Regions from separate parts of the Homo sapiens genome. Here region 1 is linked to region 2. The links come from fine-mapping of genetic effects on gene expression. A gene starts in region 2. The other region holds a variant in brackets. All regions are shown on one strand. Distances are from middle to middle. Region 1 has its middle 18 kb from the start of IGLON5. Region 2 holds the start of LINC01872 (long intergenic non-protein coding RNA 1872).

Region 1 (15,709 bases), 21 kb after region 2:
TCTCTATTCTTTATTCCTTACATTCTGTTAGTATTCTCAGATCTTCCATCCAGAATCTTTTTTCCTGAAATATATTCTAGAAAGCTGTTTAGAATTGGTTTTCTGGTAGCAAACATTCTTGGTTTTTTCTCTCACTTTCTCTCTCTCTCTCTCTCTCTCTCTCTACCCGCCCCCCGACTCTCTCTCCCTCTCCCTTCATAGTTGAAAGATATTTTGGCCAGATGTGGTGGCTCATGTCTGTAATCCCAGCACTTTGGGAGGCCAAGGTGGGTGGATCACTTGAGGCCAGAAGTTTTAGACCAGCCAGGCCAACATGGTGAAACCCTGTCTCTACTGAAAATACAAAAAACAAAAATAGCCAGATTTGGTAGTGTCCACCTGTAATCCCAGCTACTCGAGAGGCTGAGGCAGGAGAATCGCCTGAACCCTGGAGGCAGAGGCTGCAGTGAGCTGAGATTGTGCCACTGCACTCCAGTCTGGACCACAGAGTGAGACTCTGTCTCAAAAAAAAAAAAAGGTATATTTGCCAAGTTTGGAATGCTGCATCGGCAGGCATTTTCTTTCAGTATCTTGAACTATTCCATGTTCCATTATATCTTGCTTCTATTATCACAGGAGAAAAGTCAGCCATGACTCTCATCTGCTGCTCCTTTGAAAATGATCTCTCCTTATCTGTCTCTGCCTTTAAGACCTCTTTGTCTCTGACATTTCCGGTTTGGCCTCACACTTTACACTTTCATAACACCAACTTGCCTATTTGTCTGTGACACATGCGTTTCTTGTCCTGCAGCTTTGCTGATATGTGGCTTCTGCCCAATACTCCCCCTCCTCTGCATTTCATTTTCTACCCCTGCTCCCCTCTCACACCTGGCTGACATTTACTCATCATTTAGGACTCAACCTACAGCCCCTCCATCACATGCTCTGGAAAACTTCCCCGGGCCTCTCTCCGGGGCCAGGTGTCTTTTCAGGACTCCTGTAGGTCTCCTGGACTTTTGGGTATTAGCACTAACACTTTTACTTTGATGTGACTGAGTGTGGATATCATTTTTTTAGATTTGTCTTTATTTATATTTATTTGGCCTCTTCAATCTATGCTTTGGTGTCTTTCATCAGTTCTGGAAAGATTCTTAACCACTGTTTATATTGCCTCTGCTCTTTGTTTTCATCATAGGGCTCTCATCTAATGTTTGTCAAACTTTTTTATCTGTTTCCCTTCTTACCCTGTGTCCTGTATTTTCCAGAGAGAGGGAGTCAAGTAAACAAGTACTAGGTTAGAGGTCTGTATGAGGGAGTTGCTAAGAGAACCCTACTCTTTCACTGTCTCTCCATCCTTGGGGCAGAGGTAGGGGATCAGTATTGCCCAGAAAATCCTTTAGCTTGCCTCTAATCAACTCCCTCCAACTTCACACTCTGTCAGTATGCCAGGTGTTTCCCTCTTTCCCCCAGTCTCTTATCTCATCCCGTCATGTTCAGCAATAAGGTTTACCTACTTCCAAGGAAAAAATCAGCTCCCCAACACATACAACGTTATTACCATTGACATTGAGTGATGTACTCCCTGCCTTTTTTAGGGAAAGAGGCTTTCTTCCTCCTGTCCAAGGTAAGCTCCACCTTCTCTGCTTGGGAATCCTTCTCCTCCACTGCCTTAGGAGCTGTACTCCATCAATCATCCCTTCTGGCTCCTAAATTTTCAATCATTCTTTCTTTGCTGGCACAAATCTCTCCCGCCTCAGCCCCACAGGCTTCCTCTATGTACTATCCAATATTCTTTCGAGAAAGTATCTTACACCACTTCCTGATTCTCATCACTCTTCCACTTGCTCCCCAGCACCAGGCCACTGACATGACATTGTCTAAAGCAACCAGTTATCCTTATTCTCAATGTTATTCTCAAAATCCAGTGGCAGGTGTTCTTTCTCTTGTTCACCTTTAGGCAGCATTTAGGATTGGGGTTGGTGGGGTGAGGATCTCCCACCCAGTGGCTTATTTTCATAGCAAGGAAAGCATGGCAAGGCTGTCTGCTGAAAATGACATGGGTGGGAGCATGGGGAATCCATGGGGAATTGAGAAGAAGTGTGATGTGTTAGGGTGGTTGGAATAGCCACTGGGGAGAATGAGCAGGATCTGTATAAGGACAAGGAGAGCAACCACTGAGCAGTAGCCAAGGCCCATTGGTTACTGGAGATTAGTAATCGTTAATGGTGGCAAGCATCATTGCTATGTGACATCTCCTCCCAGCAGCAGTCATTGGAAGACGTCTTAGTCCATTCAGCCTGCTATAACAGAATACATAGACTGGGTGGCTTATAAACAAAAGAAATTTACTTCTCCCAGTTCTGAAGGCTGGGAAGTTCAGGATCAAGTCACCAGAAGATTTGGTGTCTGGTGAGGGCCTGCTTCTTGGTTCACAGATGGCACCTTCTGGTTGTGTCCTCACATGGTGTACAGGGAAAGGGAGTTATCTGGGCTCCCTTTATAAAGGCACTACAATCCCATTCATGAGGGCTACACACTCCCGACCTAATCACTCCCCAAAGGCCCCAGCTCCAAATACTAAAACACTGGAGATTATGTTTCAGCAGAAGAATTTTGGAGGAACACAAATATTCAGACTATAGCAGAAAAAAAGGAGTAGATGATGGCATTGGTCTAGGTTTGAGTATTCATGGACAAGATGCCAGGAAGGGTGATGGAGTGGGGAGGTTGGAGACGGGCAAGCAAGGAGGCTGGAAGGAGAAAGAGAGCGCTTTAACTGGGGAGCCGTTGTACCTAGTGGGGTGGGGAGGGAGGAAAGGAAGAGAAACAGAGAGTCTTCATAGACTCTAGAAAATATAGTGTCTTGGAATTGAAGCTTCCACCTGTGATATCATATAATGGGAACAGTTGGAAGGGGAGCACCAAAAAACTGGATGGATAGAAGAACTAGGCAGATCATGAGGTATTGGAATTTACATTTTCATAAGTGGAAAAGTTTTGGGAGATAATGAACCCTTGGTAGTTAAAGGAAACAGTTGCATTCATCAGGTCTCTTCCAGTTGTGAGTTATAAGGGCTGAATTCAACAAGCTCAAAGAGAAAGGGAACAGTTCTGGTCATCTGTTGCTATGTCTCTACCCCTGTCTTAGTCCATCTGGGCTACTACAACACAATGCCATAGATTGGGTGTTTTGTGCGTAACAGAGATTTATTTCTCTCAGTTCTGGAAGCTAGGAAGTCCAAGGTCAGGGTGCCAGCAGGTTCAGTGTCTGGTGAGGGCTCTTTTCCTTATAGATGACATCTTCTCACTGTGTCCCCACTTGGTGGAAGGGACTGGGGTCTCGCTGAGGTCTCTTTTATAAAGGCTTTTGTCTCATTCAGGAGGGTTCCATCCTCATGAACTAATCACCTCCCAAAGGCCCCACCTCCAAATACGATCACTTGAGGGTTAGGATTTCAACATGTGAATTTGAGCGGGGGGTGTAAACATTCAGATCATAGCAATCCCCCAAAATACAGTGGCTTCAAACAATAATCATTTTAGTATTTTTCATGATTTCCTAGATTAGGAATTTGGGCAGGGCCCAGCTGGGTGATTCTTTTGCTCCCTGTGGTGTCACTGGAGGTCACTTGAGTTGGGCTAGCATGGAGAATCCAAAATGCTTTCATTCACAAACCAGGCATTTTGGTGTGGATGGCCAGAAGGTGAGGCTCAGCTGGGCCCCTCTTTCTTTCCATGTGGGCTCCGAGTCTCTCCATGTGCTCTCTTCCAAAGCAGAAGCTGCCAGTCCTCTTAAAGGACAGGCCCAGAATCAATAGCACATCACTTCCACAGCATTCTCTTAGAGCAAGTCACAGGCTGGCCAAGATTCAAAGGAAGAAGAAATAGATTCCACCTGTCCTTAGGAAAACTATCCAAGGATTTGCCACCATTTTTAATCTGCTGTAGGAACAGATTGACTGTTAAGTCTAAAGGCACGTATTAGTTTGCAGGCGCTGCCATAACAAAATACCACAGACTAAGTGGCTTAAACAACAGAAATTTGAGGCTGGGCACGGTGGCTCACGCCTGTAATCCCAGCACTTTGGGAGGCCGAGGCAGGCTGATCATCTGAGGTCAGGAGTTTGAGACCAGCCTGACCAACATGGAGAAACCCCATCTCTACTAAAAATACAAAATTAGCTGGGTGTGGTGGCGCATGCCTGTAGTCCCAGCTACTCGGGAGGCTGAAGCAGGAGAATCACTTGAACCTGGGAGGCGGAGGTTGCAGTGAGCTGAGATCATGCCATTGCACTCCAGCCTGGGCAACAAGGGCAAAACTCCGTCTCAAAAAACAAACAAACAAACAAAAACGGAAGTTTGTCCTCCCAGCATTCTGGAGGCTGGGAGTCCATGATCAAGGTGTCAGCAGTGTTGGTTTCTCCTGAGGCCTCTCTCCTCACTCTCTTACTGCCTCTTCTCATGGTCATACCTCTGTGCACACACCCCTCGGTCTCTCCCTCTTCATGTAAGGTGCTATGGTCTGAATGTCTGTATGCCCCTACCCCTGCTAATTCATTTGTTGGAATCCTAACCCCCAAGATGATGGTGTTTGGAGGTGGGGCCTTGGGAGGTGATTAGGTCATAAAGGTGGAGTCCTCATGAATAGGATTAGCGCCCTAATAGAAGAGCCCCCAGAGAGCCATCTCCTCCCTTTCACCACATGAGGACCCAGCTAGAATTTGCTATCCATGAACCAGGAAGCAAGCCTTGCCCAGACGTCAAATATACCAGTGCTGTGATCTTGGGCTTTACAGCCTCTAGAAGTATAAGAAATAAATTTCTGTTGCTTATAAGCCACCCAGTCTATGGCACCTTGTGATAGCAGCATGGACAGACTAAGAAATAAGGACACCAGTCATATAGGATTAAGGCCCCACCTGAACAGCCTTCATTTAACTTGAGGCGCTATTTCCAAAAACAGTCGCATAGACTATGGCCCACCCATAATGATCTCATTTAACCTTAATAACCCCTTAAAAGGCCCTATCTCCAAACATGGTTACATTCTGAGCTACTGGGGGTTGAGACTTCAACATATATATTTGTGGGGACACAATTCCACCCGTGACAGGCGGATCTACACTTCAGGCATGTCTGAATCCAGGCATGCAGATGGCTTCACCAAGAGTCTGTCTGTCCCCACCCTATGGCTCTGTTTCCTTCTGGTTAACGTGAGCTCTGGAGGCTCTCTTCACCTTACAGGCAAGATGGCCAGCCCCAGATTCACGTCCTCCTCTCTTAGCTAACTCCAGCTGACAGAGAACTTGTCTTCTCGTGGTGATTTAGCAATCCCAGGGAAGACTGATTGGCTCTACCTGAGTCAAGGGTCGATGCCACCTCTAACAGCCCATCCCAGCTGGCTCCCCCAGGAAGGGATTCCAGCCACCACCAACAAAAAGGAACTGGCCTCAGAAGCTCTGGGAGCTGACATGTCGGGGTGACAATTGGGTCTGTCCATGGGAATGTCAAAGGCGCCCAAAATGATGACAGAAATCTGGGGACAGAAAGACTGAGAGTCAAGCATAAAAATCCTCTGGGAATACAGAGGCCTGGCCTAGGGGGTTGCCAGTGACAGAAATGAGAGGAAGGGGATGTTCTGGCCCAATAGCCAGAGGCTCAAAGTAGCAGAAGGAGACTCTTTCTTCAGAGGATGAGGGTTCTAAAACAGAAGGGTAACTTCCTGACGTTGCCATGGCATCTGTAACCTGTCATGGTGCTGGTGGGGGTGTAGCAGTGAGGACGACCAGAGGTCACTCTTGTCGCCATCTTGGTTTTGGTGGGTTTTGGCCAGCTTCTTTACTGCAAGCTGTTTTATCAGCAAGGTCTTTATGACCTGTATTTTGTGCCGACCTCCTATCTCATCCTGTGACTTAGAATGCCTTCACTGTCCAGGAATGCAGCCCAGTAGGTCTCAGCCTTATTTTACCCAGCCCCTGTTCAAGATGGAGTTACTCTGGTTCAAATACCTCTGACAATATCGTAGAGCAAACCAGGCCTCAGGGAGGTGGACACTGAACGAGGACATATGCAGATGTGTAGGGACAAATGTTGGGAAGTGCCTGGAGGAAAACGGGGAGCTGGGAGAGAGTGTGGCAAGGGGACGGGGCGGGGAGCAGCCTTCAGGTACTTGCTCTGAGGCCTAAAGGAGTGTGGGGAGCTGCCCAGACTGAGGGAGCCGCAGTTCTAGGCTCTGAGATTGCAAAGGTTTATCGAGTTCAAGAGCCCAGCAGGGCCAGATGAGCTCAGAGCTTAAGGAGAGCTTGGGAGAGGCTAACCTGCTGGCAGAGCCTCAAGGGCTCTGGTGAGAAGTTTGGGTTTCATCTTCCCTCGTGGAGGGCTATTGCCTCTCATGCTTGGTCATCCTGGAAGGTGAGCTGCTCTCAGTGGGGACTTTACCTGCAAGAAGCATATGCGGACAATGTGGTGGGCAAGTCCCCCTGAAATGAGTTTTGTGTGAGTTGCCCAACAGCGAAACACACCGGGGGCTATTTGTGTTCATTGCTCACTTTGTCGCTCTCTGATGCAAATCTCTATAAATGGAGGCCTCAGCTTCTAAGATAAATACAAAAAGGTTTTTTTTTGCCACCGAAAGCCCAGGCCAAAATAGACATGCTTCCTTGTCATTCCCTTGATCAATGACTAGATTTTTTTTCTGGCGCCCCCCTTGATGTGGGGGTGTCATATCCAGGTTGCTACCTAGTATGGACCCAAGGCCTTGTTGTCTGCTGTCACTGGACCATTTAAAGCAAGTCCCTTGGTAATCATAACAGCAAGCCCCCGCTTCCCCACAACCCAGCAGTGTGCAGCCAACCCTCAGTTGATGCGTGGCCTCTGATCTTCAGTCCCCAACGTCCTTACGACCTCAGCCCCATCAGTATTTTCGGATGTTTTTGTAGAGCAAGTGTTTTCAGACAGGAAATGGACGTTTGAATCTTATTGTCTGAACGCAGAAAGAAACAATGGAAGGATCTCCATTTGGGGAGGAACAGGTCGGGTCTTTAAAGCTTGCTCAGGCTGCTCTGCAGGGGACACGGGACAGAAGGACACAGCCGCCAGCCAGGGACCAGCAGGTGGCCCCTGCAGCTGCCAGAGCAAGAAAGGAAAGGGAACAGTTATATAATCCATGGGACAGCCATACAACAGAACAACACAGCTGTCAGAAAGAGCAAGGCGATGTGCC[G/A]GGCATGGACATGCAGACATGAGCCAGCAATATTCGAAGGAGGAAGAAAGGTGCAAAAAAAAAGACCTGTCCAAAACTGAAAAGTATATATGGAGACATCGCAGAGCAGCAAGAGAAGCAGGAATGGACCAGACACGAAGGGCCACCAGGCTGAAGGGCTGGGCTGTGTCCTGGGGGGACTGGGAAGCCATGGGAGGGCTGTGAGCAGGAGAGGAGCCGGGCAGCTCTGGGGGACAGAGTGAATTCCAGGAGGCCCAGAAAGAAGCTTGGGAGAGGGTCCACGCCAAGACAATAGAGGTTCTTATCCCCATTTGACGGCGTGGGGTGGGGCTGTGCTGGTCTCAGAACCAGGAAGCGGAGGAAGCTGGTGTTCTGGGCCCAGCCCAGGGCTCCTTCTGGGAACTGGACGGGGCAGGGACTGAGCACAGCATTCACCACGGGGCTTCCTGCCTTAGAATGAAGATGCTTACCTGGTGGGAGGAGCATCAGAGTCCCAAGGCCAAAGAAGGCTTGCCCCTTAAGAAACCAGAGCTGCTGGAGGAAACAGAAGTACCCAAAATGCCTGAAGCTGACACCCCACCAGACCGGGCTGGAGGTAAGTCCCTGGGACAGTCACAGGCAGACTGTCAAGCAACAGGGCCGCAGGCCAGGGCCCCCACCCCATCACCTGGCAGAACCCCGGGGAGGCACTTGTTCAGGACGGAGAGACCCAGGCCCCCTCGCCCCACACAGCAGATGCTACATTTGCCAAAACAAAGCCCCACAGACTGGGCGGCTTGAACGGCAGATACTGATTTTCTCCCCCTCTGGAGGCTGGAAATCCCAGGTCAAGGTGCCAGCAGCAGAGCTTCCTTCTGAGGCCTCTCACCTTGGCCGGTAGATGCTGTCTTCTCCCTGTGTCCTCACAGGGTCATCCCTCTGCGTGTGCCTGGGTCCTAATTTCCTTCCCTTGTAAGGACACCAGTCATTGAATTCAGGCCCATCATGTGACATCACTTAACCTTAATCACCGATGTTAAGACCTTGTCTCCAATACAGTCACATTCTGAGTCACTGGGGGTTAGGATGTCAACATATGAATGATGGGGGGTGGGGTGGATCCACACTTCCGCTCATAACAGAGGCTTAAGGAGGCTGCTTGGATTCCCCCGTGTTGGGTACTTAGAGAGGGGATTGGGCTTGTCTAAGGCAGCGGAGCAACCGACTGTGGTTCTCCCAAAGTCTAGGGCTCTGGAGAGAAAGAAGAGTGTAGACTCCGAGATGGATCACGGCATGCGGCCCAGGACGTGGAAACCTGGCCCAGGCAGAGGTGCGACTCCATCCCAGACTCCAGACCCAGAGGCCGTCGCCCGGCTCTCACCCATTTCCTGGGGAAACATGCCCCGGGGCCTCCCCAGCGCCAGCCCTCATGTTAGCCAATGTAGGGGACACGCCTAACACCTGACACCTGCCCAAGGGACACGCCACCCCAGCAGCCAGGCTGACAGGAGCAGAAACAAAACACACAGGGATACGCCAGGCGGGCAGCACCAGGAAACAGGCTGCTGCCGCCACAGGGGCCGCTGTGAGCCCAGAATGGATCCAACCCAGCCTCAGCCTTCTTCAGAGAGAGAAACTGAAGCATGCTCAGCACGATGGGAAGTGGCTGAAACCCTGAAGAACCCCCAAGAGCACATCCACGGAGACACTGGGAACCATGAGGCCCCAGCCTCTGCACATCTGCATTGCAAACAGGGAAACTGAGGCTCACCGTGCCTCGGGCCACACTGCAAGGCTGTGCACTGCTCAGGACTCCGGAACCCGGGACCCTTGTCCCCCGCTGCAGCAGCTGACCCTGTCCTGGACATTTTCTCCTGACTTTATGAGACTCTAGTGCAGAGGTTGCAAACTCAGATGCTCACAGCCACCAGGCAGGGAACAAGAGGGGCACAGTTGGCCTAATGGGGGCCGTGTCTGTCTTGAAAGCAGCTGCCCCTCCTGAAGGCGGCGGCTCACAGTGGCGGAACTCCCTCCGACTCCTCCCCACCCCCTCCCCACAGGTCAGGAACACGGGGAGACTACAGCTAGCTCTTCATATTTTTTTTTGTTTGTCTTTTGAGGAGAATCCAGAGATCTCGATTTCAGTGTGAAATATCTTGATTCCGGCACATTAGCAATTGAGAACATGTTTTTAAAAGGCAGCGCCGCGTGGGTCAAAGAAAAACCCTGATGAGCCTTCTCATTTGCAAACTCAGATCAGAGGCATAGATGTGGAGGGGACTCCTGCTCCCTGAACACCCTTCCTGCCCACAGCAGGCGGGGTTATTCAGAACGCAGACGCTTTGCCAAGGGCAACAAGAATCCCCAGGTTCTGGGAGGAAGCTTGTGTGTGGAAGAGTAAGGAGGGATTTCTAGGTAGAGAAAAACATTCCAGGTGTTCACTCATGTCACTCATGTGGCCACAAATCCCCGGAGGCCTCCTGTGTGCCAGGCCGCGGGCTGGGGACAAAGAGAAGTCAGACCCAGGTCCTGCCCATAAGACCTCCAGGTTGTTACACCCTTCGAGCAGGGCCAGGGCTGTGTCCCAAGAAGCATGGGGAGAGGGGAGGGGAGGAGGAGCTGGCATTGAGGGAGGGAGGGCTTGACCCGGCTCGGGGAGCTGAGTGTTGCTACCTGAGCCCAGCAGGCATGCAGGGAGAGGTGACAGCACCGCCAGGCACAGAAAGCTGCAAGATTGAAGGCAGGAGGCATGGTGCTGGGGGGTCAGAGCACTCCAGCAAGGGCAGAGCAAGCAGCATTTCTAGGGCAGGAGGCAGACAATGGTGAGAACTGAGCCAGGCAAGGGGCCACAGGCTGCGCCTGGGTAAAGCTCCCTGCAAACAGGCCTCAACTGTCGCCCCGCTCACCCTCAGGAGAAACAAGGGAGGAGCTGATACCTGGGGGATCAGCTTCCCCCTCTCTCTGAAGGACATGCACAGTGGTGACAATGTCCCTGAGTTTGACTTCAGTCCTGATCCCCCACCAATTGAAAGGTCGTGGGGACTAGGAGGGTGACTTCAGGAAAAATGTGGCATCCATATGGGTGGGCTGAGGGATGAGCGCAGCAGGGGCCCAGCAGCTCCACAGATACAGGTGAGATTGGAAAGTGGAATCATCTCCCAAGAAGTGGATATTGGGCTGAACTCTTTCCCCAGAGTCAAGGGAAAGACACAAGAGGGCACTCCAGGTCAGACAGACAGATGGGGTCTAATACCAGGCTGTGTTTCCCCGTCTAGGCTGAGGTCACTGCCGGCTCCTCAAGATTCCCTGTAGGGACCAGAGGGGGCTGAGTCCATGGAGCAAACCGCTAATTGGCCAGTGGTCAGTTGTGTGCATTTGTACATCTACAAGGAGAGGATCCAAGGAGGAGGCCATGGCAGGTGGCTCTGTACAAACCTCTGTTCCCTCAGGAGATGACGGAAGCAGCCGTGATCACTGTCCTGGCCAGGACTGAGGGTGACCCAAGCCCTCACAGGCCTTCATTCACTTAAGCCAGAGACCCTGTGGAATCGGTCCCATTATCATGCCCATTTTACAGAGGAGGAAACTGAGGCCCAGAGAGGCTCAGAAGCCTCCCTGAGGTTACGTTCCTACCTTCTGAGACAGATGCTATCCCCCTGCCCTTACCCACAAGGAAGTTGAAGTTCACAAAGGGGAGGTCCTTCCAGAATCTCACAGCCTGGGGACAAAGCCAGATTTGAGATGGCCCTGCCCTCTCCTGCCTGCTCCTAGGAGCAAGGCCCATCAGGATCACATCAGGCTCACTTCTCCCCATTCCAGAGTGCAGACTGTGGAAGGGAACTGTCTGGGGCCCTGCAGCCACTTCAGGCTTTGCTGGCTCCAGGAGCAGGTCTAGGCTCTCCCTCCCATTGACCCTCAAAGTCTAGTCTCTCTGTCTCTGTTTCTCTCTCTCTCTCAATTCCATGCACTCTCTGTGTGCCCTGTACCCTGCTAAATTTGGAGAATGGCTGTGGATAGGGCTGCCACCATCCCTTCCTCTCCCAGATGCGGATTCCCCCAACCATGGGACACTGCAGGGTGGGGGGGTCCGTGGGATCATGAACTTCTTCTGCAGTGGCCACTTGGACAACAGAGCTGAGCCACCTGTGTTTACATCCCAGCTCTGGCCCTGAGTGTGGGCCACTCCCATGTTCCCTAACCCCAGCTTTCACCTGCAAAATGGGGGTATAGCATACCGTGGATCACTGTGAGGCACAGAGGAGTTCATGTTTATTCAGGAACCAGCTCGGGGTTAAGGGCACGGTGACGGCAGCCTGTGTCTGTTGCACACTGTGTCTGTGCCAGGCCATGTTCTAAGCACATTACATGGGTCCTCTTGTTTATATCCATCAGGGTTCCACCAGGGAAACAGAACGAGTAGCTGATCCTTATACAAAGGCTTATTGCATGGGAGTGGCTTATGTGATTCTGAGAGCTGGCTAGGCAGGTGCTATGGACTGGATGTCTGTGTCTCGCCAACATTTTTAAGTTGAAACTTAACCCCCACTATGATGCGGTCTGGAGGCCTCGGTGTGGACTGCTACAACAAAATACCATAGACTGAGTGGCTTATAAACACAAGAAATTCATTTCTCACAGTTCGGGAAGCTGGGAAGTCTAAGACTTCTTATTTCTTCTCCTGGGCAACCTCCATTCTGCTCTTAAGGCCTTTTTGGGATGTGATTAGGTTATGTAGGTGGAACTTTCATGAATGGGATTCATGCCCTAAGATGGCCGGGCATGGTGGTTCATGCCTGTAATCCCGGCACTTTGGGAGGCTGAGGCAGGAGGATAACTTTAGCTCAGGAGTTTGAGACCAGTATGGGCAACCTGGCGAAACCCCATCTCTACTAAAACTACAAAAATTAGCCAGGCATGGTGGCACATGCGTTTGGTCCCAGCTACTCGGAGGATGAGGCAGGAGGATCACTTGAGCCTGGGAGGTGGAGGTTGTGCCACTGCACTCCAACCTAGGTGACAGAGCCAAACCCTGCCAAAAAAAAAAAAAAGACCTAAGAGGCCAGACGTTTCCTCTTCTACCATGTGAAGACATAGCATAAGGCACTGTCTGTGAACCAGGATGCCGGCCCTCACCAGACACTGAACATGCTGGTGCCTGGATCTTGGACTTCCCAGCTCCCAGAACTGTGAGAATTGAATTTCTTGTGTTTATAAGCCACCCAGTCTGTGGTATTTTGTTGTAGCAGTCCACACCGAGTAAGACAGCAGGTGTGAAGTCTGTAGGGCAGGCAGGCAGGAGGGGCAGTCTGGAAACTCCAGCAGCAGCTGAAGCGAAATTCTTTCTTTTCCCGGGAAACCCCCATTCTGCTTTTGAGGCCTTTCAACTGATTGAATCAGACCCACCTACATTATTGAGGATAATCTCCTTCACTTAAAGTCAACTGATTAGAGCAAAAACAACAACAAAAAGGTAACTATGAGACGTGACGGATATGTTAATTTGCTTGACAGTAGTAATCATCTGATTATGTATATATATATATATATCAAAACATCATGTTGTATACCTTAAATGTATACAGCATAGTCAACTGATTAGAGACGTCAGTCACAGCTACAAAATCCTTCCACAGCGACATGTCTCAGTGTTTGGTTGAGCAGCTGGGGTCTGTAACACAGCCAGGTTGGCACATAAACAGACCATCGCACTGCTGGTCCCCACCATGGCCCTGTGAGGTGGGTTCTGAGATTATCCCCATCCTGTAGAAAAGGATGAGGAGACTCAGAGAGGATAAGGAGCCCGCCTGACTGAACAAACGGCCGAGACACCTGAGCCAGGGCTGGGAACGCCCCTTCCTCACCCCCCCGCGCCACGTCCCATCCAACCTTGCTCAGGGAATGCTTCAGCTGCTATTATTAGCACCAAGCTCGGCTCCAGGGACATGGCACAAAAAAGAAAAGTACATCTCAAAGTGGGTAACCATACCTGACCTTGTCCTAGGAAACAGAGAGTCGGGGAGGGACGTCTTTGAAGATGAGAAGAGTTCAGTCAATGAAAGGGATAGGAACTAATTTATTCTCTCAAAAATATACTAAGGGCCAGGCGCGGTGGCTCATGCCTGTAATCCCAGCACTTTGGGAGGCCGGGGTAGGCGGATCGCTTGAAGTCAACGTGGTGAAACCTTGTCTCTACTAAAAATACAAAAAGTTAGCTAGCTGGGTATGGTGGAGTGCACCTGTAGCCCCAGCCACTCCGGAGGCTGAGGCAGGAGAATTGCTTGAGCCTGGGAGGTGGAGGTTGCAGTGAGCCAAGATCGTGCCACTACACTCAAGCCTGGGTGACAGAGCAAGACTCCCTTTAAATATATACTGAGGCTGGCTATGATGGTATGCACCTGTAGTCCCAGCTACTCTGGAAGCCAAGGCAGGAGGATTATTTGAGGCCAGGAATTTGAGACCAACCTGGACAACACAGCAAGACGCCATCTCTACAAAAAATAAAAATAATAGCTGGGCATGGTGGCATACACCTATAGTCCCAGCTACTTGGGAGGCTGAGACAAGAGGATAGCTTGAGGCCAAGCACAGTGGCTCACACCTGTAATCCCAGCACTTTGGGAAGCTGAGGCAGGAGGATCACTTGAGCCCAGGAGTTTGAAACCAGCCTGGGGAATACAGTGACACCCCACCTCTATAAAAAGTTTTTAAAATTAGCATGCAGCCAGGCGCAGTGGCTCATGCCTGTAATCCCAGCAGCACTTTGGGAGTCCGAGGTGGGCAGATCACCTGAAGTCAGGAGTTCGAGACCAGCCTGGCCAACATGGCGAAACCCCGTCTCTACTAAAAATATAAAAATCAGCCCGGCGTGGCAGCGGGCACCTGTAATCCCAGCTACTCAGGAAGCTGAGGCAGGAGGATCGCTTGAACCTGGGAGGCAGAGGTTGCAGTGAGCCGAGATTGTGCCACTGCACTCCAACCTGGGTGACGAGAGTGAAACTCCATCATCTCAAAAAAAAAAAAATTAAAATTTTAAAAAAGAATTAATTATTTTGGAAAGCCTTTGCATGAATAAGGCATGAATCTTTGAACACCCCTGAGATTTCTAAGCATTGTGTTCAGTGGGCTTCAGGCCTTGACTCATGCCCTGCAAAGCCCCCTAGCAGAATGGAACGCTCTCCATGAATAAAGATAAAAGCCAAAGATGGTGCTAGGTCAGCGAGGTCCTGGCCTGAAAAAGACAGTCCCCTCCAGTGGGATTTCTTAAACAGACTGTCTAATAAAGGTACGATTTGCAGAGGTGCGAGCAGTGTTAGGGATGTAGGGATGGTAAGGATCTCAGGTGCCAGCAATGGGAGGAGAAGTTTCCTGCCAGATTCTGCTGAGTCCTGGAGGAACAAAGGGAGGAATGGTATGACCGAGGCCTTAGTGAGAACTGGGATCATGGAAGAGGGGCTGCTGATGGCACTGAGGCTCCCACCTTGGGAGCAGCAGGCAGGGAGGAGGGGATCCTCCAGCCCCTTCCAGTATTCTGCCTGTGCCTCCCTTTGACCAAACCCACCTCGAAGTTGAAGGGCAAGGGAGCTTGCTGATGGGGTCAGTAGAGGTCAGCCTCATAGGCAGAGGGGATGGAGGAGGGATGGTGTGGTGGACTGAATGATGGCCCTCAGAGACATCAGTCCTAACGCCTGGACCTAATGCCTGTGCATGCTACCTGATAAGGAGAAAGGGTCATTGCAGATGTGATGAAGTTGAGGCTCTTGAGATGAGATTACCCGGGTTTATCCAGCTGGTCCCTAAATGCAATCACAGGTGTCCTTTTCTTTCTTTATTTTTTTTATTTTTTATTTTTTATTTTTTGAAACAGGGTCTCACTCTGTCACCCAGACTGGAGTGCAATGGCAGGATCTCAGCTCACTGCACTGCAACCTCTGCCTGGGTTCAAACGATTCTCCAGCTTCAGCCTCCCGTGTAGCTGGAACTACAGGCACAAGCCACGCAATTTGTCTTTTTTGTAGAGACAGGGTTTCACCATGTTGGCCAAGCTGGTCTCGAACTCCTGGGCTCCAGCTCTCCTCCCACTTAGGCCTCCCAAAGTGCTGGGATTACAGGTGTGAGACACATTGCCCGGCTCACAGGTATCCTTATAAGAGGGAGTCAGGCCAGGCACAGTGGCTCATGCCTGTAATCTCAACACTTTGGGTGGCAGAGGCAGGAGGATTGCTTGAGCCTGGGAGGTCGGGGCTGCAGTGAGCTATGATCATGCATAGCTATATCTCTGTCCATTCAACTACCATCCAGACCAAGAAGTAGGACGTGCCTACTGCAGAAGGCTCCCTTCCACGTACCTCCTGCTGGATCTCCATGACATGTCTCCTCCCGGACTCTCCCCAACCAGAGTAATTACAATTCTCACATCTGTTGCCATGGATCATTTTTGCCAGGTATGAGACTTCATATAAATGGAATCATACGGTAGTAATCTCTTGTATCTGGCACTTTTCACTCCACATTATGCCTGTGAGTTTCCAC
Region 2 (15,709 bases):
GTCTAGCGATCAGGTTCAGGCCAGATGAGGACAGAAGATAGAGGGGAACTGGTCTGGGAGGCCTGAATCCTGTGGGCTTCCAGAAAGTCCTTCTGAAGCTCCTTGTGAATAGCAAGTAAAGAGAAGGCTGCATGCTGGAGAAACTGGAAGAGGGAAGCCAGGATGCCTTGCTGACTCCTGACCCTTCCTCCCCACAGTACCTGCTAAGCTGCTCAACTCCTCTTGCTCCTTGGAGAAGACACTGCAGTGCAGCTGTTCCTTCCATGGGATTCCCACACCCTCTGTGCAGTGGTGGATGGGAGGAGTCCCCGTGGGTGTGGATGGCATGGATGGCAGCCTCCAAGTGACTTCCACCATGCTTGGCCCCTGGGCTAACAGCACCATCAGCCTAACTGAAGAGCCAGAAATGGGCATGAGACTTCTCTGTGAGGGGAAGAACCAAAACGGAACCCATGCTTTGAGCATCCTACTGATGTCAAGTGAGGGTGGAGGGGGCTCGGTGACTGGGTGAGGACAATAAGCGGGATGGGGACAGTCACTGGGGCTAGAGAATGGAGCAGAGTTTTGGCTCCGATGCCAAACTTCTCACATGCTCTCTGCTTCCAGGAAAGAGTTCTTTGGCTGCCCAGGCCTTCGTGAAAGGGCTGATCCAGGGTGCTATCTATGCGGGAATTGTAATTGCGCTGCTCTTCCTCTGCCTCCTCCCTCTCATGTGAGTACTAGGGTTAATATTCACCCGCAAGCCTACTACCGGGCAGGCCCTGGCTGCAGCCCTGGCACAGAGAGAGCAAAGACAGGACCCCTCCCCTCAAGGAGCTTAGGGTCTAAAGAGGGAAAGATGTACCAAACATGGTCACCACAATCCAGGGCCATGAGGACTATACAGAACCGTAAAACTGTGTCATAAAACAGACACTTTGAACACATTTTATAAAGGAGAAGACCAAGAAGGGACTTGGCAGCCCTGGAAAAGGCAGCAGCGAGTCCCCGGGGTGCTGTCTGTGGTGGGCCTGCAAGGGTTCAGTACTCGTTAGCTTGGTGGAAAGTATTAATAGTACAGGTTGAGTATCTAATCCAAAAATCCAAAATCCGAAATGCTCCAAAGTCCAAAAGTTCTCGAGGCACCGACATAATGCCACAAGTAGAAAATTCCACACCTGACCTCATGTGATAGTTCAATGCACACAAACTTTATTTCATGCACAAAATAATTTTAAATATTATATAAAATTACCTTCAGGCCATGTGTATAAGGTATATATGAAACATAAATGAATTTTGTTTTTATACTTGGCTCCTATCCCCAAGATATGTCATTATGTATAAACAAATATTCCAAAATCTAAAAAAAAAAAAAAAAATTGAAATCTGAAACACTTCTGGCCCCAGGCATTTCAGATAAGGGATATCTAACCTTTGTATGCAGACGCCCAGAGGCATGTTTGAGGCATTTCCAGTGTCTTTGTATAATGTCAGGTGCATTGAGAGTACCAGGTAATGGCTAAAAATGAGGTTGAAAGACATCCTTGGTGTTGGTTCACAGGGTGTTAAAACTTAGCTGCATGTATTAGCTAGAAGCATGGAGTGGGAAGGGGTGAGTTGCAGGAAGTCAGGCCAGAGAGACGGGCAGGGGAGCCTGTCCAGACAGCTTGGACTGAATCCTCATTTCGGAGCCATGGAAGAGTGCTAAGCTGTGAAGGAAAGCTTGAGCTTGGGGTGGGACACAGATTAGAGAGAGTGAGAGCCAGAAGGTCAGAGGCCAGGCAGGAAGCTGGTGCAGGGGACTAAGCAGGAAATAGAAGGCCTGACCTGGGGCAAGTGATGAGGGGCAGCCAGAGAGGTGGGACTTGGGCATGGCTGGCTATGGGGAGACAAAGATGAGGAGTGAGGTGTCAGGGCAAACTGAGGAGCTATTTTCAAAGTATAATCAACAGGACTTGAAGACCAGTAACAATCTCTCTGCCAGTTGCAAGGCCCTTTCTTAGCTGACCTCATCTGAGCCCCACAGCCTAATAAGCAGGGTATCCCCCTTATTCAGAGTGTGAAACTAATTCCCAGAGAGGATGTGTGGCTTGCCCTAGGTCATACAGCAAGCTGGTACTGTTGTTGAGGCTCTAAATCAGAAGTTCTGGTCAAGATAGAGCCCATTTGGGGATTCAGGGAGATGGAGAGCCAGAACCAATCCAAGGCTTATTTCCTTAGAGTGAAACATATCAGAAAGAAGCAGGCGAAGAAAGCTGCAGCGATCAGAGCAAAAAAGAGCTCTAAAGTCAGAGCAAGCCAAGAACTTGAGATGTCTCTGAAGCCTGAGGAACCAGGAAAACCCGTAGTCGCCACATTTTCTGAGAGCCGGATATTGGTATGTACCTATTGTGTCTGGAATCTAGTCTATCGGAATACTGATAATAAGACCCACAGGGAAAGGAGCACACAGTGTTTTGAAGGTGTTATCATCCTCAGTCTTGCAGGATACCTAATGCTAGAGTGTGCTTTCAGGTCATTTTATAAATAGGAAGCTAAGGCCCAGAGAGGAGAAGGATGAAAGTTAAGAGAAACAATTTAAAGAACAATTAAAATCAATTTACACGCACACACCATTACATTGAATCCCCACTGAAAAGGCAGTTGGGGAAAATCCTAATAGCAGTTGTAGCATCAGAGTGGAAACCAAGGATTTGGCCTCTGAGTGTATGGCCGGCAGCAGTCAGCTTGGTGTAGATGCCACAGGCCAAGTCAGCCTGAAGTGGTTAGAGATTAGGCCAAGCCCAGGTTACTCCTTCATTCACCCTGTACCCCACATCTTCAGCAGGGCTTGGAAGATACAGTGTCCGAGGTTGCTATGCCTCACTGTTATTTACCGTTTATGATTCTCCAGAATCAGAATTATCCTGCTGCCCTCCTAACACCCTGCATGAACAGTTGGTGTCCTTTTGTAGATAAGCCATCTGTTAAATTCCACCAATATTTCCTGCAATATCTCCTAATCTTTGTGCTCGACAATGCTGGGGTCTCAGAAATGGGCCAAACCTAGGCCTTGTCCTCAGAGAGCAACTAGACTGGTCGAGAAGGCACCTTCACAGTAGGGGATGCTGAGCCAGGAGTTACGGTGGTGCAGAAGAGGGAGGGACCAAACCTACCTGAGGAAGTCAGGCAAGATTCCCTGAGGAGTCTAAGGAACAGTCAGTGTTATGGGTACTGAAGATGCACAGAGAGGACCAGATGGAGAAGACCGAGTTGCAGGCTTTAACCATGGGGTTGTGAGGAAGGGCTAAGCCAGTGCTCACTCCATGTTGCCTTAATTCTGTGCACAAGGGGGTGTCTTTTTAAGATTTGGATACCTCACCTCTAGACCTGTTCCAACATTCTTTTTTCTTTGTTCTATTTTGCACCTCGCTTTCAGGAAAAGCAAGATAAACGAGCCAGCTAAGCCTGTGGAACATGCCTCATACCTGGAGTCGCCATTATCCCTGGAATTACAAAGATCTGCAAAATTTATAGCGCTCACAGAAACCCTGGAGGCTGTAATAAACCTGGAGCCCCCTGGACTCTCCTCAGCTCACAAAACCCTCTCAATTCCTACACATCCCTTAACACTCATTCTCCATTGAATAGGTGGTTACTCTTAGACCTAGTCTTAGAACCTCTGAAGACACACTTTGTAATTTGTTGTTTGGCTAAATGAGAAGAAATCTGTGCCACCCTGGGAAGGTGTCAAAAGAAGGAAAAATACATGTGACAATATGAATCAAGTCCATCAGCAAGTTACTTTTGAGCGCCTACTGTGTGTCAGTGCCTGAGATACACCTACAAGAGCGCCAGGCTTTCAAGCCTTCATATCTGGATAGAATCCCAACTTCAGTGCTTGGTGGCTGTCTATCTTTGGACAAGATCTTTCATTCCCCATCCTTTGAACATCACATGACCCATATCTGGGTGGAGAATGGGTGAAAAGTACTGTTCAGAGATGCAGGTGAGAAAAAACATGACGATGGGCCCTGAATGCCAAGATTCATTGGAGCTTTGGAGCTTTATCTTGTAGGACCTTATCCTGACTCCCTTAGAATGTAAGTTCCAAGAGAACAGGGACTTTGTCTGCCTTGTTTTCTACTTTTATCACCAGCACCCAGAATGATGCCTAAAATACAATAAGATCTCAAGAATGTTTGTCAAATGATTTAATTAATTATAAGCTGTTTTAAGGTTTGAAGCAAGCAAGTAGAGTGACCAGATATAGACAGAAAAATCATTTCCGTACCCTGACCCCACATATGATATATTTAGAATGGGTAAGGCTGGAGGTAAAGATGCTAGTTAGGAGGTTATCGCAATAGTTCTTGGCCAGATTGAAAGGCAGGCATGCAAGGAATGGGAAAGGGATTCTGGCATTAGAATGAACCACAACTATGTATTGTTCCTCTCAGAATGGATGACAACCTCCTTTCTAGCCAGATGCTAGTAGATTTTTTTTTTTTTTGAGATGGAGTTTTGCTCTTGTTGCCCAAGCTGGAGTACAATGGTGCAATCTCGGCTCACTGCAACCTCTGCCTCCCGGGTTCAAGTGATTCTCCTGCCTCAGCCTCCCGAGTAGCTGGGATTACAGGCACACACCATCACACCCAGCTAATTTTTTATAGTTTTAGTAGAGACAGGGTTTCACCATGTTGGCCAGGCTGGTCTCAAACTCCTGACCTCAGGTGATCCACCTACCCCGGCCGCCCAAAGTACTGGGATTACAGGAGTGAGCCACCGTGCCTGGCCAGATGCTAGTAGTTTTCAGTAGGTGGAAAGAGGGTCATCTCTTCCCTGGGGCAATATTTGTGGGTAAATACAGTGATCCTGTAGCACCAGCTAGATGGTCATCTTATACTCAGGGTGGACGTTTACGTTAGCCCCCACATGTATAAGCACCTCTCACAGGCAGTTCACATTTCACAGAAATATCAGATGTGCCACCATGTGCCAGATAATGAGGGGAAGAAGTAAGACACTCACCCTGCCTCCGTGGAGTCATGGTCTACATAGACAGACGATGAAGAAATGCAGACGAATTTATAGCTTAAAATGTTGATAAGTGCTAGAAAGAAAACAGGACAGAATACTATGAGAAAGCACAGGAAAGGAAGCTAGGTTGGATTACAGAGTCAGAGAAGGCCTCTCAGAGAAAGTGACACTTGCCTTGAGACCTATAGGATTATTAGGAGCTGGCTAGACAGAGGGAGCAGTAGATCCTAAGCTCTGACATGAGAACAGTTTGGTGAGTTCAGGAGCCCAGAGCAGGCCGCTGTGACTGGAATTGACTGAGGGATGAGCTCCTGAAGGGCCAGAACTTGCAGGCCTTCCAGGGCTCTAGTGGGAAGTTTAGGTTTTGTCCTCACTTATGGAGGGTTATTTCCTCTTATGCTTTGTAATTCTGGAAAGTGCAGATTGTTTGAGAATCACATCCAGTGGAGCTGTGTGAGAATCCTGGGCAGCAGAGGTTTTGAGTTGAGGATAGAAGCCTCTATGTAACAGGTTTGGTGTTTGCTTCTACTAAAGATACATCCTCTGTTTGGGAGGGAGAGGCAGACAAGGCTGGGGAGAGGGAGAGTGCCAGTGTTGGGAAAGAAGAGAAAAAAATGTAGAAAAGGAATAGGAGAGAGGATAGGGATCGGGTTGGAGATAGGTCAGAGATGGGTTTGGGAATGGGAATAGAGAGGCTGGGCTTCATCGTGTGTCTTGTTTTCTCGGTGATAGGGGCCTCGCGTGCAGGACAGGAAACAATGAGTACACAGGGTGCCTTCTGACCAGCCCTGGGGTCCAGCACTAGTCATTTTGTGCCTTAGTTAATGCCTTGACTTCCCGCACATACCAGGTTGAGAGAGGAACGTCCCTTAGCAACTGATTGGCCTGGAGTCTAGAGGACTGGTGGGGGTCTGGAACCAGCTGCCCAAGGAAAACGATTCTCCCAATGTCCGGGGGACGCAGTAGCAACTGTTGCTTCTGACTAGCTCAGGCTCTGGAGACCCGCGCGCTCTCTTATGCGGCTGCGCATCCCAGCAGCTCCCGCGAGAAGGGTCAGGCCCTGATTGGCTCTGGACAAACCCGCGCGAGCTTGCGGGGCGGGGCTTCAAGGGATTGGTATCCCCGTGCAAGGAGGTTGGCGAGGCCTCAGGGGACTCCCAGTTCAGCGAATCCGTTAGCCTTCCTCTGCCTTAGTCACTTCCCCGTGAGGCACTCCGTGTTTGTGTACACGGTTATTCCACGTGTCAGTCAGTTCATCGGGCGCATCCGGAGTCATTGAAAACAGTAATAGGAAGTCAAACAAACCCGCTTGATGCAAAAATTCAGGAGGACATTCGGTTTTTAAGGAAATAGTGCTGAGGAAGGACCAGGCTGGAGCTCCTTGGACCCTGAGACTGGGAGGTAAATATGGAAAAAGAAGTGATAATTTAGGGGGAGGGAAAAGAGATCACCTGTGAAGAAAACTCACGCACACACCAGGGCCTGGAGAAGGAAGTGAGACTGGAAAGAGATCAGAATTTTATTTTTATTTCATTATTTTATTCATCTATTTAATTTGAGACAGTGTCTTGCTCTGTCACCCAGGCTGGAGTTCAGTGGCACAATCTCAGCTCACTGCAGCCTCGACCTCCCAGGCTCAAGCAGTCCTCCCACCTCAGCTTCCAGAGTAGCTGCACCCACAATGCCGGGCTAATTTTTTAAATTGTTTTGTAGAGACAGGGTGTCGCTGTGTTGCCCAGGCTGGTCTCAAACTTCTGGGCTCAAGCGATCCTCCCACCTCAGCCTCCCAAAGTGCTGGGATTACAGATGTGAGAGATCAGAGTTTTTGAATCTGAAGGACCCTTACATAGTCTGCAGTAACCCTCCCATTCTACCGAGGAGGAAAAAGAGGGGGAAGCAGAAAGGGGACAGAACTTGCCCAGAGCTATCCAACGAGTTACTGGCAAAGCCCCAGTTGGAACCAGCCCAGAGCTCTTCCCAACCTTTGATTCGAGGTTGTAAATTAAAGGAGGAGGAGGAAGGATTTTGATAGTGAAAAAAAAGCAAAAGTGGGTTATGATGCAGAGATAGGATTTGTTATCTGGAAGCCTGAGTAGCATCTTGATGTAAGGAGGGAGTCGTTTTTTTAAGAGAGGCAGCGATCAGAATGGAAAAGCAGAGGGCTGGTTCTTGAATCAAAACATCACTGAGAAAAGAGATGAGTCAAGAGCGGTCACAAATTAAATGCTGAGGGAACCAGGCAGGTGATGTGAATGATAAACAGTTGCCTAGCACTTATTTTGTGCTGGCCTCTGTTCTGAGGGTTTTACATGCATTCATTCATTTAATCATTTAATGCTCCCAACAATTCTGTCAGATGAATCCTGTTAAAATCTACATGTTATAAGTGAGGAAACGGGAAACCCAGAGAGGGGAAGTAATTTGCCCACAGTCACACAGCTGGCAAATGGTGGCGCCAGACTTAAACTCAGGCAGGCTGACTCAGCACACGGTCTTAACCACTGTGTTATATGCCCCTCCCAGGTGAGTGCAGCAGGGAGAGCAGGGGCAGCAATGGACTGGAGAACAATTGTCCAATATTAAAGGGGAAAGTTAATATCTGCCATGTGTTGTCAGATCTAATTTATTAAAAAGTAGCTGGGAGTTCAGACTTTTATGTGAGGATCCTGATTTTTAAACATTGCAACTAATGAAAGAAAGTCTGTATGCAGTTTTCTTAATGCAGGCTAAATAAAACCCCCTGCATTTTAACTACCTCACAAAGCCACTAATTTGCAAACTCTAGACTATCTTAAATGAGGAAGCAGTTCCCTAGTGAGGGAAGGGCCTGGCCCAGAAAAACCTAGAAAATGGGAGGCAAAGACCAAGCCTTTGGACTGCTGGCCGTCCACTCACAGAAGAATCTAGAACCCTTCCTTTGAACTGGCTTCACATCCAAGTTGTATGGGTTTCCTGTTGCTTTCATAAGAATTACCACAACTTGGCCGGGCGCGGTGGCTCACGCCTGTAATCCCAGCACTTTGGGAGGCCGAGGCGGGCGGATCACGAGGTCAGGAGATCGAGACCATCCCGGCTAAAAACGGTGAAACCCCGTCTCTACTAAAAATACAAAAAATTAGCCGGGCGTAGTGGCGGGCGCCTGTAGTCCCAGCTACTTGGGAGGCTGAGGCAGGAGAATGGCGTGAACCCGGGAGGCGGAGCTTGCAGTGAGCCGAGATCCCGCCACTGCACTCCAGCCTGGGCGACAGAGCGAGACTCCGTCTCAAAAAAAAAAAAAAGAATTACCACAACTTTAGCAGCTTTTTTGTTGTTTGTTTTGAGACCAAGTCTCACTGTGTCACCCAGACTGGAGTGCAGTGGTGCAATCTCGGCTCGCTGCAACCTCTGTCTCCTGGGTTCAAGCTATTCTCATTCCTCAGCCTCCCAAGTACCACCACACCTGGATAATTTTCTAAAAATATTTTTAGTAGAGACAGGGTTTTGCCATGTTGCCCAGGCTGGCCTGGAACTCCTGGCCTCATGTGATCCACCTGCCTTGGCCTTCCAAAGTGCTGGGATTATAGGCATGAGCCACTGGGCCCAGCCCAATTTTAGCAGCTTTTAAAGTAACACTCATGTATGATCTCACAGAAGGTCAAAAGTTCTGGTGTGGCGTGGTTCCCCTGGTTTTCTGCTCCAGCTTTCACAAGGCCTGAATCACAGTGTTGGCAGGGCTATGTTGCTTTCTCGAGTCCCTTTGGATGAACCCATTTCCAAACACATTCAGAATCAGTTCCATGCTTTGTAGTAGTGAGGTCTGCATTCCCTTGCTAGCTGTCTGCTGGGGTCATTGTCAGCTTCTAGGAGCTGCCCTCATGGGCTCGTGGGTTCGTTCCTTCATCTTCAAAGCAAACAATGGTGAGTCAAATCCTTCGTATGCTTCACATCTCTCTGACCTCCACTTCTGGCTCATGTATGCCCTTTCTTTCTCCTGAATCTCTCTGACTTTTCTGCTTTGCAAGTTTCACGTGATTACATTACATTCACTCAGATAGTGCAGGATGATCTCCTCAATTTAAGATCAGCAGATTAGTCACCTTCACTCTATCAGCAAAGTCCCTTCACTCAGTCAGCAAAGTCCCTTCACTGAAGCACGTAGATTAATGTTTAATTGAATAACCAGGGCACAGGAATCTTGGAATGGGAGACATCTTTAGAATTTTGCCTACCACACAAGTCGAGGGGGAAGACATTTGTAACTCATATGGTGCAAAACTATATGCTTTTCCCACTGTCTTTCTCAAACCTTGTGAGGTGGACAGGACAGTTTGATTTATTCCCATATTTTATACATGAAGCATGGGACTCAGAGAGGAGAAGAGGCTTCAACCGTGATGACACAGCAGTTCTGAAGGCAGCCTGGCATACCGGAAAGAACACTGGGTTCGGAGTCCAGGGACCTACATTATGACTTCAGGATGTCCATTTCTTGGCCCTGTGAACCTGACTAGTTCCTATGCTGTTCTGGGCCTCAGTTTCCTTATCTGCGAAGTGATGCATTGAGAACTACATCACAGTGCTGTTGTGAGATTGAGAATGATAAAGTATGTGAATCTCCAGTGCACAGCACATGGGCCACCATGATTGTTCGGTATTATTTATTTATTTATTTTAAGGTATCTGCAGAGCCACAGCTAGAACCCAGATTTATTTATTTATTTATTTATCTCTCTCTCTTTCTCTCCCTTTCTCTCTCTCTCTCTCTGTCTGTCTCCCAGGCTGGAATGCAGTGGCACAATCTCTGCTCACTGCAGCCTCTGCCTCCTGGGTTCAAGTGATTCTCATAACTCAGCCTCCTGAGCAGTTGGGACTACAGGCGCATGCCACCACGCCTGGCTAATTTTTGCTTTTTAAGTAGAGAAGGGATTTTGCCATGTTGGCTAGGCTGGTCTCGAACTCCTGGCCTCAAGTGAGCTGCCCGCCTTGGCCTCCCAAAGTGCTGGGATTACAGGTGTGAGTCCCCGCGCCTTGCCAAAACCCCAAATTTCTTGGTTCCAAATCTTCTTTCATTTGATAAAGCTTTATTATGCACCAGCTGTGTTCCAGATTGTGTGTTGGGTACTAGAGACACAAAAGTGACTCAGACTTGACTTTGAAAGGTGGACTCCATTATGTCACATAAAGGTACCTTGGGCATGACACACAAAGGCCACCCAGAAGTGGTACACAAAGGTGATTCCAACATGACACACAAAAGATATTTGGACATGACTAATTTTCTCAAGGAACTCACATTCTGGTCAGAATAGATACAGAGTTACTTCCCTGCGTACTGTGAAGGGGCAGAAGCTGACCAAGGAGAGAAAGAGAAACAGAGGGGAAGTAGGGTTAGGTAGTATTTCTAGCAGTCTGCCAAAATCTGTCAAATTTTGGAGTTTATTTTGACAGTAAAGTGAAGCCAACAGATGGTAACGAACAGGGAACTGACATGATTGATTTATAATTTAAAAGGATGCCATGCAGATGTGGAAATGTGAAGGGGCAATGGTGGAAATATCACTGGAACAATGGAGTAATGGAAATTCCACTGTCCTTCCTCAGCTGCAGAGCCCCCTGCAGAGTCTCCTTGTCATCTTCCTCCAAAAGTTTTCTAGGAGTCCCCAAGGAGTCTCCTATGTCTTCACAAACAGGCCCCATTCATCTGGTACCTGCAAGCATGGAAGCTTTACTTTTTTTTTATGGTGGGGATGGAGTCTTGCTCTGTCACCCAGGCTGGAGCGCAGTGGCGCGATCTTGGCTCACTGCAACCTCTGCCTCCCCAGTTCAAGCAATTCTCCCACCTCAGCCTCCCGAGTAACTGGGACTACAGGCATGTGCCATCACACCTGGCTAATTTTTGTACTTTTAGTAGAGATGGGGTTTCTCCATGTTGCCCAGGCTGGCCTCAAACTCCTAGGCTCCAGCAATCTGCCCGTCTCGGCCTCCCAAAATGCTGGGATTCCAGGCGTGAGCCACCACGCCTGGCCTAGGAGTTCACTTTTGGCTAGATTCCCTGGTAAGGCATTTTATCAGTTTCCCAACTAGCGTGACAATCAAATGGAGAAGAGATATGGCAGTGGGCTGTGTGGGGTTGTTACAATAGCTCCACAGGGTCATCAGAAAACCAGGCTCCCCATGTTGTTGTCAGTGACATCCCCAGATCTCTAGCTTTCATTCTCACAGTTGTCTCATAGTCGCCAGGTGGCTGCACCATCTCCAGCATCACGTTCATCTTCCAGGAAGTAAGAAGAGGAAGGTGAGGAGGAGGAAATGATGGTGCTAGTGTCAGAAAAGCAGAACTCCCAAAACTCTCCAGCAGATAGCCTCTTAAGTTTGGTATTTTTAAGTAGACAAGTCTCTCAAAATGTGCGCTCAGTAATCTAGTGGAGTTAAAGATTTCTTTTATTTATTTATTTATTTATTTATTTATTTATTTATTTATTTATTTTTGAGATGGAGTTTCACTCTTGTTGCCCAGGCTGGAGTGCAATGGTGCAATCTCAGCTCACTGCAACCTCCGCCTCCCGGGTTCAAGCGATTCTTCTGCCTCAGCCTCCCCAGTAGCTGGGATTACAGGCGCGCCTGCCACTACACCCTCTATATATATATTTGTATTTTTAGTAGAGACGGGGTTTCACCAGGCTGATCTCAAACTCCTGACCTCAGGTGATCCACCTGCCTCAGCCTTCCAAAGTGCTGGGATTACGGGCATGAGCCACCACGCCTGGCCAGGTTTTTATTTTTATTTTTTTGCATTGTTCATGAGAAAGAAGAGTACGGTCCTACAGATTGGTATACAATTTAGGAAAACAGAGATGTCAATTACAATGTTATTATTACCAGAGCAAGAAATCATCAAATAAGACAACCCGTCAGAATTCCATTTTATTTGGGGATCATTTTCATAAGACATGGAATAATTTCTAACATCTTTGTAGTCTCATAAGACCATTTGGTTTAAATTATTCTTCCAAGAGCAGATTCGTATTACCAAAGACTAGAACAAGTCAGCAACCGTCATGAATATTCATACAAAACTGTATATTGCAGAGGAGAACATAAATGATATTCTTATAAACAGTCTCAGTTTTGCACAACATCAAATCAAATTCCTTGAACCATTTTATAACACAGAACAATATCTTTTGATTTATTGCTGCAGGGGCAGGAAACGTGTCCTTCAACTCTTTCTGAGAGTCATGTACTTTATTATGAAAATTTATGTTTTTAAAACCAAGTCCTGGAATTTTATTAGCTAGTATTACATGAAAAAAAAAAAAAACCCTTGGGAGCTCAGTTGGGATGGCAAAAAAAAAAGGGAGAAAAGCTGAATAGGCTTTTATTCACTGATAGTAATTTGATAACATTTTTCTTCTCCTTGGCTCACTGGCCAGAACTCTGCCATATGGCCACCCTAGATGAAAATGAAACAAGAAAATAGAGATTTTATTTTTCAGATTGGTGGCTTGATCACCTGGACAAATTTGAAATAACAAGGAGGAAACAGAGGTTGAATATCAGGTAGGCAACTCTCAGGGTCTACCTGAGATATTGCCCTAGAGGAGATGGATAGCTAGGGCTGCTGAAGACAGTCTGAGAGAGGAGGCTTCTTTCTGGTTGTGAGATCCAGGAGAGAACTTCCAGGAGGAGGTTACATTTGACCTGGACTTGGAGAGAGAAGGAGGGTTTGAATGTGGGCAAAGGACAGAGCTGCAGAAGGACGCCATGACACGGGGAGTGGCCTGAGTAAACAGGCGGAGGAAGGATGTGCGGAGCATCTGTAGAAAGGATCCCCATTTCAGCCGGTGCATTGGCTCCCGCCTGTAATCCCAGCACTTTGGGAGGCCAAGGTGGGCAGATCACCCAAGGTTAGGAGTTTGAGACCAGCCTGGCCACCATGGCGAAACCCTGTCTCTACCAAAAATACAAAAATTAGCTGGGCGTGCTGGCAGGCACCTTTAGCCCCAGCTACTCAGGAGGCTGAGGCAGGAGAATTGCTTGAACCCGGGAGGCAGAGGTTGCGGTGAGCTGAGATCGCGCCACTGCACTCCAGCCTGGGTGACAGAGCAAGACTCTGTCTCAAAAAAGAAAGAATGACAGGGTGCAGGCATGGGGGCTATCGAGGTAAGGGAAAAGCGGGGCAAAATCAGGGAGAGCTCGAATGAAAGGCAAGGGAGTTTGGAATGTATCCTATCAGCCGCTGAAATATTGTTTATTTCTCAAATATCTCTCTTAAATATATCACCTTCTCTTTGTCCCCCATAGCTATTGTTGCAGCTCAGACTTCATCCTCTTTCTCCTGGACTGTTGCTTCCTCCTCACTGCAGACCCAGAGGAACCTTTCGAACACCCAAACCCGTTCTCCCATGGTTCAAAACCATTCCATAATTTCCATGACTTCCCCCATTGACGTGGGAGGGAGTCCGAGCTCCTCAGCTTGGCATTTGAGGCTCTTTGAAGAGGTAATGGAGTGGGAATGCAGACTAGAGACAGGAAAGCAGACATGGTGTTGAGGCTTCACAAAGAGCGTGCGGACAACCCCTGTTCTTTTGTTTCTGAGGCAGGGTCTCGCTCTGTTGCCCAGGCTGGAGTACAGTGTTGTGACCACAGCTCACTACAGCCTCAACCTCCCAGGCACAAGAGATCCTCCCACCTCAGCTTCCTGAGTAGCTGGAACTACAGGCATGTACCATTACACCCGACTAATTTTTTTTAACATTTTGTAGGGAGAGGGTCTCCCTACATTGCCCAGGCTGGTCTCAAACTCTTGGGCTCAGCCTCTCAAAATGCTGGGATTACAGGTGTGAGCCACTGCGCCCAGCCCAAACTCTGTTCTTGAAGCTCCCCAGCATCTGGTCCCATCAGGCCCCTAATTCACAAGATTCGCAGACCTTAGGGGTGGATTGAAAAGACAAGAGCCCCTAGCAAGCAGTGGACTTCTTTCTAGCCTCACCCCATGCTTCTTACTGCTGCCCCTCTCCTCATCCATTCCAAATCCTGCCCTCCAGGACAGACCAATCTGAGGTCAGAGTTAGCAGCAGGATACATCCTGGTCCTCTCTTGCCCCTGAGATCTCGCTGGGGCTGATGGCACTGCCACTGCTATGGTTGGGTAAGTAGAAGGAGAGGCAGCATGGAGGTGTCTTGGGGAGGTAAGGGTGGGTGGAGTTGGAAGGCAGACAGGGCTGAGGTAAGATGAAGGCTGAGGTAAGATGAAGTACCTAAAAAATTAGGTACTTGGCCAAGCACAGTGGCTCATGCCTGTAATCCCAGCATGCTGGGAGGCCAAGTTGGGCAGATCTCCTGAGGTCAGGAGTTGGATACCAGCCTGGCCAACATGGTGAAACCCTGTCTCTACTAAAAGTAGAAAAATTAGCCAGGTGTGGTGGTGGGCACCTGTAATCCCAGCTACTGGGGAGGCTGAGTTGGGAGAATCACTTGAACCCAGGAGTGGGTGTTGCAGTGAGCCAAGATCGTGCCACTGCACTTCACCCTGGGTGACAGCAAGACTCTGTCTAAAAAAGAAAAAAAAAGTAGAATCTTTATTCTACAATATAGATCCTCAAAAAACCCTCAGTCTTTGAAGACCAGAGTTCAGGTTCAAGCTCTACCACCTTGAGTAATTCTCTTCAGTTTGCTCACCTAGACAATGGGGTGTTCCCCTTCTACAGAGCAAAAGGAAATTTATTTGTGGAAACCATTCAACCACAACAATCCTAGCTTTCACAAGGCTGTTGGGGAGGGGAGGGAGTTCCAAATGAGCTAATGGGTGGTGAGCACAATTATTCACTAACGGTTCACTATGACATGGTCTCTTGTAATGTAATGTGACTGAAGTCAAAATCTGCAGTTATTACAGAGGGCCATGTGCCTCTGTAGTTATGGTCCTTAATTATCACAATACTGTAGCATTGGTATTATCGTACCCACTTCTCTGATTGAGAAACTGAGATTCAGAAATGATACAACATGACCCAGATCACAAGATACGGTTAATACCAACAAGAAGAGCAATAAAAAATCCAGCAGACTAGATTGGGGTGGTGCAGTTTAGGAGTCCCCCCAAGATGCCTCTGATTCAGTGATCCACAAGAAGGACTCAAAACTCAGCAGAACTGTTTTACTCATGATTGCAGTTGATTATAGCAAAAGAGTACAGATGAAAATCAGTACAGGGAAGAGGTGCATAGGGCAGGGTCCAGGAGAGAGCAGGCATGAGCTTTCAGCTGACCTCTCCCAGTGGTGTTGCACCAATAGAGCTTACTTCTTTCTGCAACAATGTGTGGTGACATGCACAGACATGCCAAGTAGAGAAGTGCACCCAAGCCTTGGTGTCCAGGGTTTTTATTGTGGGTCTGGTCACTGACTTAGCTTAGTCTTCAGCCCCTCCAGAGGTCAAGCTGATGCCCCAGGATCCAGGGCTCCCACCATAAATCATAGTGTTAGCATCAACTGATGAAGTCCAAGGTCCCAGGTAAACAAAGACACTCTTATCAGGCAGGATATCCCAAGGGTTTAGAGATCACCTCATAGGAGTTGGACAAGTGTCAAGCCTTTCTTAGGTAAGGTGACTCTTTTAATGCACAGATATAATACAGGAGTATGCTAGGTGGGTCTGTTTTTCAACTTGGATCTCTCCTTACAGGGCTACTTTCTCATGTTTTGATGGAAGTCAAGAAGATACCAGTGGA

What was found.
Region 1: its variant is fine-mapped to the expression of LINC01872 in testis (GTEx, PIP 0.98).

The regions. Positions count from the first base shown.
Region 1 is chr19:51,286,122-51,301,830 of GRCh38, forward strand. No RefSeq gene overlaps it. Among named protein-coding and RNA genes, the nearest start is that of IGLON5, 18 kb to the right of the region's middle. RefSeq lists enhancers at 6,349-7,027, 7,028-7,706, 8,385-9,063, 10,422-11,099. The variant G/A (reference allele first, on the strand shown) is at 7,202.
Region 2 is chr19:51,265,171-51,280,879 of GRCh38, forward strand. LINC01872 (long intergenic non-protein coding RNA 1872) reads left to right here and starts at 6,096. Exons shown (of 3, transcript NR_136526.1): 1 at 6,096-6,402; 2 at 13,584-13,701; 3 at 15,664-15,709. SIGLECL1 (SIGLEC family like 1) reads left to right here. Exons shown (of 6, transcript NM_001385465.1): 3 at 198-479; 4 at 607-712; 5 at 2,203-2,359; 6 at 3,401-4,160. The coding sequence ends at 3,427. It overlaps LOC107985327 (a long non-coding RNA gene), which reads right to left and starts at 5,997. Exons shown (of 4, transcript XR_007067309.1): 1 at 5,849-5,997; 2 at 4,993-5,074. It also overlaps the pseudogene SIGLEC24P.